Homo sapiens: one gene and its partners. The protein of the gene in region 1 interacts with the protein of each later gene in a pairwise test. Each region holds a gene or a part of one and is shown on either strand. Other genes may lie near its edges.

Region 1 (3,762 bases):
AAAGTCTTCCATCAAAGAAAAGCCCAGGACCTGTTGGCTTCCCTGCTGAATTCTACCAAACATTTAAAAAGAACTAATACCAATCCTATTCAAATTCTTCAAAAAAAAAAAAAAAAATTGAAGAGGAGGGACTACTTCCAAATTCATTCTAGGAGGCCAGCATTGCCCTGATACCAAAACTAGACTAGGATACAAAATAAAAAGAAAACTACAGACCAACATCACTGATGAGCATAGGTGCAAAAATTCTCAATGAAACACTAGCAAACTGAATTCAACAACACATTAAAAAGATCATTCACCATGATCAAGTGGGATTCACTCCAGGGATGCAAGGATGGTTCAACATATGCAAATCAATAAATGTGATATATCACATTAATATAATCAAGAACAAACACCATATGATTATTTCAATAGATGCTGAAAAGCATTTGATAAAATTCATTGCTTTTTGATAAAAACCCTTGTCAAAATTGGTATAAAAGGAACATACCTCAAAATAAGGGCCATATATGACAAACCTACAGCTAACATCAAACTGAAGGCCTTTTCTCTAAGGACTGGAACAAGATAAGAATGCCCATCTCACCACTGTTGTTCAACATAATACCCGAAGTCCTGGCCAGAGCAATTATGCAAGAGAAGGAAATAAATGGCATCCAAACCGGATAGCAAAAAGTCAGGTTAGTCTGTTCGCAGATGATATAATCTTATACCTCGAAAAACCTGAAGACTACACCAAAAAAACTGTTAGTGCTGATAAACAAACTAAGTAAAGTTGCAGGATAAAAAATCAACACTCAAAAATTAGTAGCATTTATATACTTCAATAGTGAACAATCTGAGATAGAAATCAAGAAAATGATCGCATTTACAAAAGCTACAAAAAATATAAAATACTTAGGGAATTTAAATACTAAAAATTTAAACACCAAATTAAGTTAAATTTAGTGTTTAAATTCCCTAGGCATTTTATATTTTTTAGTATTTTATTTATAATTTATAATTTAGCATTTAATTACTAAAGAAGTGAAAGACCTGTATAAGGAAAACTAAAACTCTCATGGAACAAATTGAAGAGGACACAAAAACACTGGAAAGATATTCCATTCTAATGGATTGGAAGAATTTATATTATTAAAATGACAATACTTCCCAAAACAATTTACAGATTCAGTGTAATCACTATCAAAATACCAATGACATTCTTCACAAAAATCAGAAAAAAAAATTCATGTGGTGAGCCCTTAATCTAATGACTCATATTCTTATAAGAAGTCCATATTTGCAAATTGACCAAGGGGTTGAAAAAAAAGAAAGAAAAATGCCCAAGTGAAAACACACACAGGGAGAATGCCATGTGATCACTGAGGCAAAGATTTGTATAACACATCTGCAAGCCGAGGAACACCAAGAATTGCTGACAAACACTAAAAACTTGGAGAGAGGCAAGGAAAATTATCCCATGGAGCTTTTTTTCTTTTCTTTTCTTTTCTTTTTCTTTCTTTTTGAGACAGTCTTGCTCTGTTGCCAGGCTGGAGTGCAGTGGCGCGATCTCAGCTCACTGCAACCTCTGGCTCCCTGGTTCAAGTGATTCTCCTGCCTCAGCCTCCCGAGTAGCTGAGATTACAGGCAAGCGCCATCACGCCCAGCTAATTTTTGTATTTTTAGTAGAGATGGGGTTTCACCATGTTGGCCAGGATGGTCTCGATCTCCTGACCTAGTGATGTGCCCACCTTGGCCTCCCAAAGTGCTGGGATTACAGGCATGAGCCACCACGCCAGGCCTCCCATAGAGCTTTCAAAGATAACATGGCCCTACTGATATCTTGATTTTGGATTTCTAGCCTCCAGAGCCATGAGATAATACAATTCTGTTGTTTTCCACTATTGAGGTTGTGGTACTTTGTTACAAGAGCCATAGGAAAGCAATATAAGTTACAAAACAAATTATGGACTGATAAAGGGAGAAAATAAGGAGGTATGATATTACAGATACACTTCCTTCATTGTGTTTCACTTTATTGTGCTTTGCAGTATTGAAAGTTTGTGATGACCCTGTGTGGAACAAGTCTGTCAGCACCATTTTTCTACAGCATGTGCTCACTTTGTGTCACATTTTGGTAATTCTTAAATTCTTAAACGTGACACTCTGTGTCACATTTTGGTAATTCTTAAAATGTTTCAAACTTTATTGTTATATCTGTCATGGTGATCTGTGATCAGTTATTTTTGATGTTACTATTGAATTTGTTTTGGTGTGCCACAAACCATGCCCGTTTAAAATGTCAGACCTAATCAATAAACATTGTATGTGTCCTGACTCCTCCATTGACCAGCTGTTCCCTCATCTCTTTTCCTTTCCTTGGTCCTTGCTATGTCCTGAGACACAATAATATTGAAATGAAGCCATTTATAATACTACTACTACAGTGACCTCTATGTGTTCAAGTGAAAGGAAGAGTCACATGCCTCTCAGGTTCAATAAAAAGCTAGAAGTGATTAAGTATAGTAAGGAAGGCATGTTGAAAGCCGAGATAGGCCAAAAGCTAGGAGGCCTCTTGTGCCAAACAGGCAGGTGGTGAATGCAAAGGAAATGTTCTTGAAGGAAATGAAAAGTGCTACTCTGGTGAACATATGAATGATAAGAAAGCAAAAAGCTTTTTGCTGATATGGAGAAAGTTTGAGTGGTTTGGATAGAAGATCACACCAGCCACAGCATTGCCTTGAGCCAAAGGCTAATCCAGAGCACATCTCTTACTCTCTTCAATTCTGTGAAGGCTGAGAGAGGTGAGGAAGCTACAGAAGAATAATCGGAAGCTAGCAGAGGTTGGTTCGTGAGGTGTAAGGAAGAAGCCATCTCTATAAAATGCATCAGCAACAAGTGCTGATGCAGATGCTGCAGCAGGTTATCCAGATCTAGCTAAAATCACTAATGAAGGTGGCTACACTAAACAACAGATTTTCAATGAAGATGAAACCACCTTTTATTGAAATAAGATGCCATCTAGGACTTTGATTGCTAGAGAGGAGAAGTCAGTGCCTGGCTTCAAAGCTTCAAAGGACAGCCTGACTTGTTAGGGGCTTACGCAGTTGGTGATTTTAAAGTTGAAGCCAGTGCTCATTTATCATTCTGAAAATCCTAGGGTCCATAAGAATTATGCTAAACCTACTCTGCCTGTACTCTAGAAATGGAACAACAAAGCCTGGATGATAGCACATCTGTTTACAGCATGGTTTACTGAATATTTTAAGCCTACTGTTGAGACATACTACTCAAAAAAGAAAAAAAGATTTCTTTGAAAATATTACTGCTTATTCACAGAGCACCTAGTCACACAAGAGCTCTGAAGGAGAGGTACAAGGAAATTAATGTTTTCAAGCCTGCCAATACAATACACATTCTGTAGCCCATGGATCAAGGAGTAATTTTGACTTTCAAGTCTTATTATTTGAGAAATACATTTTTTAAGGCTATAGCTGCCATAGATAGTGATTCCATAGATAGTGATGGATCTGGGCAAAGTAAATTAAAAACCTTCTGGAAAGGATTCATCATTCTAGATGCCATTAACATTTGTGATTCAAGGGAGGAGGTGAAAATACCAACATTAACAGGAGTTTGGAAGAAATTGGTTCTAACACTCATCATTGTCTTTGAGAGGTTTAGGACTTCAGTGGATAGTGTAGCTGCAGATGTGGTGGAAAGGACTAGTATTAGAAGTGGAACCTGAAGATGTGACTGAATTGCTACAATCTC
Region 2 (2,856 bases), on another chromosome or scaffold:
CACTGCCACGTGTAGTTTTTCACACACGCAAGCAACAGATGTAAATCCCATAACAGTGCCTGACCCAGAGTAGGCATTTAAATGTGTTGAATAAAAGCTTGCAAAATGTTTTCCTCAATTTTGAAAGACATCTCTTTGAAAACTCCATCTTAGGAGATGTGATTAATAGAGGTGCCAGGTGACATAGAGCGCTGCTACATTTCTGGCCATAGAAAAGAGCCCACAGGGTGAGGCTGCTCAGGTCTGTGTGTGCTCATTCACGTCTTGAGTCCACAGGCCTGAGAATGAAACAAAGAGCCAGAGAACCATGGAGTTGGGATGGAGGTCATTGGAAGGGCTCCAAGGGTTGTATACAGGGAATGCTTGAGGGGAATCCCCCAAGAACAATGGTAGGAGATGGGTACAGCTCTCAGCAGTGTAACCCTTAAAGTCCCAGGTTAATGAGTCTAGAGGAAGAATAAGAAGAGAACTGCCAAAGAGGCAATTGTGTAAAAAGCTGTTCATCCACATTCCCAACATCAATGTTGTTACTATTGGAATGTAAAGTGTATGTGTGTGGGGTGTGTGTTATAGGGAGAATGGAGTAACAAATGGCAAAAGTTGACACAGGCCAAATCATGGAAGGCCATGCTAATTTTATTAACTTATATAGTGCATAAAGTCTAGAATTTAAAATTACAAAGGTTTTCTACAAATCAATAAGAAAATACAAATAACCTATATTAATCAGAACAGAAACTCAATTCAATTATCTTAAACAAGAAAGGGACTTTATTGGCTCACAAAACTTTAAAGTCCGGAGGTAGGGCAGGCTTTAGGCACAGCTGGATCTAGGGCCTCCAGAAAAATGACATCAGAACTTAGTTCTCTTTCCATTTCTGCTAGCATCCGAGTTTCTCCTCAGACAGACTCTCTCCACATGGCACAAATTCAGGCTTACATGGTCCTTGGTTCCTGGGATCTCCATAAAGCCTTCTTTCCAGTAGTTCCAGCAGAAGTTCTGTTAAGGGCTTTCCTTAGCCTGGCTTAAGTTATATACCCATTCTTTTATCACTGTGGCTAGGAAGCTGTGGGACTCAGGAGGCCAGGCCTGGTCACATGCTCACCTAAGCCACAGGGAATAGGTTCCCCACAAATAAATAAAGGTTGTGTTACCAGAAGATGGGGAAGGAGATGCTGAACAAATAAAAACAATATATCCACACATAACCCAATAGAAAGCAGGTAAGGGATACAAACAATCCACAGTAAACTATAAATGGCCAATAAACATGAAAATAACCCCAATCTCACCATTTTTTTTTATAATCAGGGAAATGCAAAATAAGAAAAGGTTCTTTTTCGCCCAACAGATAAAAACTATCAAGTGTAGGTATGGTTATATGGGGAAATGAACATTCTCCATACACTTGGTGAAAATACAGTTATGAAGGCCTTTGGGAAGACTGAAGGTGGACAGAGAACAAACCCTTTGATCCAAAAATCCACCTTACTGGACTCCAGACTAAAGAAATATTCACACACATGCACAAAGACATCTGAATAGGATGTTTACTTTGGCAATGTAATAGCGAGAGGAAAAAAATTAAGGGAATAAATAATGGCATTTTCATAGTATTTAATCATATTCAACCATTAAAGAAATTTAAAGACCTGTTATCTTTTTTTGAGACCAAAATTTTAAAAAGCTACAGAATATGAGATCCTATTTATGTAAAAAGTGTTTTTATGTGTATGTATATTCGTACGGAAAGGTGACTAGAGGATGTATGTTAAACTGTGGTAAGTGGAATGTGATTGGTAGCATTGGAGAAAAGGGTCTCTCTATTCAAAGAACTGTGTTTTTTATACAATGAGAAGGTAGTCATTAGACTTTCATAATTAAAAAAAGGAAAATGGGCAAAAGCAATTCATAATAGGAAATGCAAATGGCCAAGAAACATGAAAAGATGTTCCTCCTCATTAATATTCAAAGAAAAGAAAGAAATTTTGCCTACCAGATTGGCAAAAATTTTTAAGGATTCAGGGTTGGCAGACTATAGGCAAACAGGCATTCTTACTAATGATGGAGTTGTAAATTGGTGAAATCTTTTTGGTAGTAGTTTTCAAAACTGCAAATGTGAAACCTGATCCAATAAATTTCTAGTTATTCATCCTACAGAAATACCCACACAAGTAGCAAAATACATGTACAGGAATGTTAATTACACTTCTATCTATAATGAACCTAATTATCAATCCATAGGGGATTAAATAAATTACAGAATATTCATGCAATGGAATAGTATATAGTTATGAAAAAAGAACATCTTCAATGTGGGGGGAGAGGAGGCAAGTCTCAGTGTAGTGCATGTGAAATGGGGTTATGTCCTACTTTATACGGTAGCTGAGGATTAAGAGTTAATCCATGATAAAGCACTTCAAATAGTGCCTGTCACAGCAACCACAGGTGTCAGCTGTTAACACATTATTGATTAAATAAGTATATGCCTAAATCTGGAAGAACAAACGAAATTATCATGACTTCTCGGTAACACTGTGAAAGGAAATATCCTTTTTCATTTTACATTTCTGCACTGTAAAAAATTCAAACCAGCAATGTTTAATAGCTTTCACATTTGTTAACCATAAACACAAATTTATCAAGGTTTAATAGCCACCACCCATGGCATGGTGAATATGTCCCTGGAGTCTACAGAACCAGATTTGAATTTTATCTCTAGGCCACATGCAAGTCACATGATCTCTGAATCTTGCTTTCCTAGTCCACAAATCTAAGTGAGATAGGTACGGTGTCTAAGCCAATGCCTAGCATGCAGATTATTTCAGTACATGTAACCCTCCCTTCAATTTACA
Region 3 (3,762 bases), on another chromosome or scaffold:
TTACACTAAAAATTATTTCATACCCATTATGATATACAAATCTACATAGAAGAAAGAGCAGGTTTTAATTTCCATTTTATGCCTTGGGGAGATTGTTACTTACTTAAGAACACACAATTCTAATCAGCAAACCTTGGATTTTTATTCAGATTTTTTTCATAACAATTAAATTCTTTTTGACTAACCCAGGGAGGCCCTCTAAAGCCTTAGTTTTGATTAGGAATTTAAATTCTGCATGTATACATCTTTTCACATTAACTTGCAAAACTGCACGTAGAGATTTATGGAATAAAAATATATTGTGCACAATAACAAATTTTCAATTCAATGAAAACTGAACTATCTCTCATGTTCTGTGTTAATTTCCCCCCTGTGATGCTGTGGTTAGATTATTTCAGGAATGACTTCCAATGAAGCGATCTTGTCCTACACTGACACTGAGTTTGGTCACATGGCTTGCTTTGGACAATGGGACACTAGCAAATATGACGTAAGAGGCCTGAAAAGCCCTTGCTCACCGGAGTTTTCCCCCTCAGTGCTCCTGGGAATGCTTCTATCACCATTGGAAGGATCCCAAGCTAGCCTATAAGAAGATGAAACCACAGCTGAGGCCCAACCATCTCTTTCTTAGTCAGCCCACCAGCTGACTGGAGCTCCATGAGGGTTCCATGTAGGGCCAGCAGTATTACTGTCCAACTAAGCCCAGTCAAAATCTCTAACCTACAAAACCTAAAGCAAATAAAACTTTGGTTATTATTTGAAGCCATTAAGATTTGGAGTGGTTTGTTACACAGCAAAGGGTAACTAACACAAAATGTTAAAAGAATCTTTAAAACAACATTAAAATAGTATGTATAGGTATATATAATTCTTGCATGTAATTCTTTACCAAGCTCCTGAAGTCAGTTAGAAAGAAGAAATATCCAAGACACCTTCAACGTTTTCAAACCAGATTTACAAAACTGCTTCTAAAGATAAATGATTCTGCTCCGTGGTCAAACAATGACAGATAACCGTAGACCACCCCCAAAATGTCAAGTACAGAATCTTGTTTTTCCTCTTGGCTGAGAGCACAGTACTGGATCCTGTCATTTCTACAGATTGGAAGCAAATCCTAGTTTCCTAGTTCCTTCATCTACTATATAAAACACGGTTGCATTTCCTAGAATTCACCATCTCTATATAAGAACATTAGTGTGTAATTCTCCCTCCACATACACCTTTTTATTTTCCGTTCCCTGTTTAAAAAAAATAATAAAATAGAGGTCTGATGATGTAGACTTTGGATCCTGCTTTCCAGCATGCCAAATGTTGAACCCATAGAGGGAATTTTGTATGTGAAGTCTAAGGGAAGGAAAATGCTGTGCTCCATAACATAGGTACTAGTCATAATATGTAATAAAATACAAACTGCCAATAAATAAAACCACAGAAAAGTGTTCCTCTGTATATTTCTACTACCCATAAATAACCTACCAAAGCTGAAATGTAAAAATTAACAGAAGGAAAGCAGGTCATTTAAGAAATTGGATAAAATAACTTGCTCTCTTAAGACATGCATTCATTTGTCCACACCCTGTTGATATTTCTTTGGTTCCAATGGGATCCTGGAGGAGGTACACACAGTGAAAGAGGAAATGAGACTCTAGCCCTAAGAGTGCCAATCATAACTGCACTGTCCATAAAGATGTTTGCATTTGCCTTTCAGGAATGTTTTTGTAAAGATTAGCAACTGTTAACCGGCAGTAGGCTAGATTCTCCTCAGGGAAACAAGAATCTGTACAAGGAATTCACTGGGAACACTGTTAGAACAAATCATTTGTCATTCAAAAAAAATGCAAGAAAGGGACCTAAAAAGCAATTAATTTAAAAATATTATTTAGGTCTCATTAATTGGAGTCCAAAAACATTAATAATTTCAAAGTATTCTCTGAGTGGGTAGCAGAATTTTGAATTACTGACACCGATACAATTTCAAAAATATTTTGGGTAAAGGGGCAGAAATATTTACCAATGATCTATGTGTCCTTGCCTTTCATCATTTCCCAGCCATCTTGCACCTAAGCCGCACCATTTGACTATTCTAGACATTAGTGTGTAAATAGAAGTGACATGGCTAATTTCCAGGTGAAAACATTTAAAGGTCAGTGCATAAACTTCCAATTCTTTCTTATTTCTTGTAGTTACCATGGACACCACATGTTGAGATGCTAAAGAGTCAGAATGGGTCTGTGAGTGATTATCTGGAATGCTGGACATGTAGAGTTTGTATGGAGAGTGAGTAAGTAATGAACATTTTTATGTTATGCCATTGAGATTTGAGGGTGAATGTGTTACTGCAACTTATCATGACCTATCCTGAGCAATACAGAAAACTAATCTGGGTTTACCAACTTTCTAATATGCCAAATAAGGAGATTTTAACATATAAGCATGCACAACTCCTCACTGTATGCCATCATTATGTAAAAGAAATAATATTTTAAAACCCAAAAATACAGAAGGATAATAATCATAGGAGGATTCTTTCTTCAACTCAATAAGTATGGTTTTCTTTCAAATATCACTATATTATTTTTAATTTTGTTATTTTGCTGGCAAAATTTTATCATGGAATAGTATAACTGTCTTCCAAATGGTATTCAAGAATTCTGGATCTAGGTATTTCAAATATGGCAAAGAAGACTGTGGACCCAGGGCAATTAAAAAAGATCATATAATGATAATGCCCAGCTTTACCTGTCTTTCAGTGAGATCCAGATTCACTGCTATCTCGTATCGCCTCAGTCTGGTGAGATAATTATGATGGGCAAATTCTGCTTCAAGTTCTCTGATTTGCTCTTTGGTAAATGCTGTCCTTTCTTTCCTGGGTTTGCTGTTGACTTCTGACTTGTAATTTCCTTCCTGGGAGTCTGAAAAAAAAGGGAGACAGAATTGGTAATAACTCATTTATTCAAACACATGCAATCATATTATTCACAGTTATTGAATTACTACTTTTCCAGGTACTGCGCTAGACATGGAACAAATAGAGACCAAAGACAGCAAGACTGACGGCAGCTCAACGGGGGGAGATATAATTCTTATTTTTTTCATCTTCCTTCAGGTAACTCACAGTCCATTTGGGAAAGCATGTAATTTTCTTCTTATAAAATATTAACAAAACCTTTAACTGCTTGTAGTATGATATTAAGATAAACCAAAACCTCTCTAGAAAACACTTTTAGATATGAAGTTCTGTTTCATAAGTTGTTGAACATACGTACTTGAGGTCTAAGTAAGATTGAACATAGTAATCCTTTAAAAAGTGGCATCTCAATATAGGAGTATTTGAGAAATTCAAACGTTTAGCAACTGGACCATAAAAAATTTTATGCTCAGACTGAGCGTATGTAAAAGTATGTGTGTACTTATTGGCTTTTTTATCTGTATTTAAGTAAAATTCTTGAGGGCAATAGCAATGTTCTTTTATTTTATATTATACTTAGTCCAACATGGAATCTATAAATGAAATTGTGTTCATATGACTTAAACTATGAACAGAGTTTTTAAATGTGTTTTTCATTATATATAAGATAAACATAAGGTGCACAACATGTAACATCAGTGATCCACAACATCAAATCTTATAATGCAGTGTAAAATACCAATAGCAATTTTGAGTATATCATTCCATTTTTCCTCTTAAGGGTTCAATACATAACTAACGTATAGAATTTCTTTTATCCTCATAAATACCCCTGAAATGTAGGTCAGAAGACA

Evidence for each region.
Region 2: the proteins of PGBD1 (region 1) and ZNF24 interact in binary tests that used the Homo sapiens proteins (3 or more experiments, as listed by UniProt).
Region 3: the proteins of PGBD1 (region 1) and MEOX2 interact in binary tests that used the Homo sapiens proteins (3 or more experiments, as listed by UniProt).

Annotation. Positions count from the first base shown.
Region 1 is NC_000006.12:28,291,451-28,295,212, forward strand, and holds part of PGBD1 (piggyBac transposable element-derived protein 1), read left to right. Parts: intron 1-3,762.
Region 2 is NC_000018.10:35,331,612-35,334,467, forward strand, and holds the end of ZNF24 (zinc finger protein 24), read right to left. Parts: 3' UTR 616-2,856; downstream 1-615. UniProt on the Homo sapiens protein: Transcription factor required for myelination of differentiated oligodendrocytes. Required for the conversion of oligodendrocytes from the premyelinating to the myelinating state.
Region 3 is NC_000007.14:15,624,007-15,627,768, forward strand, and holds part of MEOX2 (homeobox protein MOX-2), read right to left. Parts: intron 2,913-3,762; coding exon 2,740-2,912; intron 1-2,739. UniProt on the Homo sapiens protein: Mesodermal transcription factor that plays a key role in somitogenesis and somitogenesis and limb muscle differentiation. Required during limb development for normal appendicular muscle formation and for the normal regulation of myogenic genes.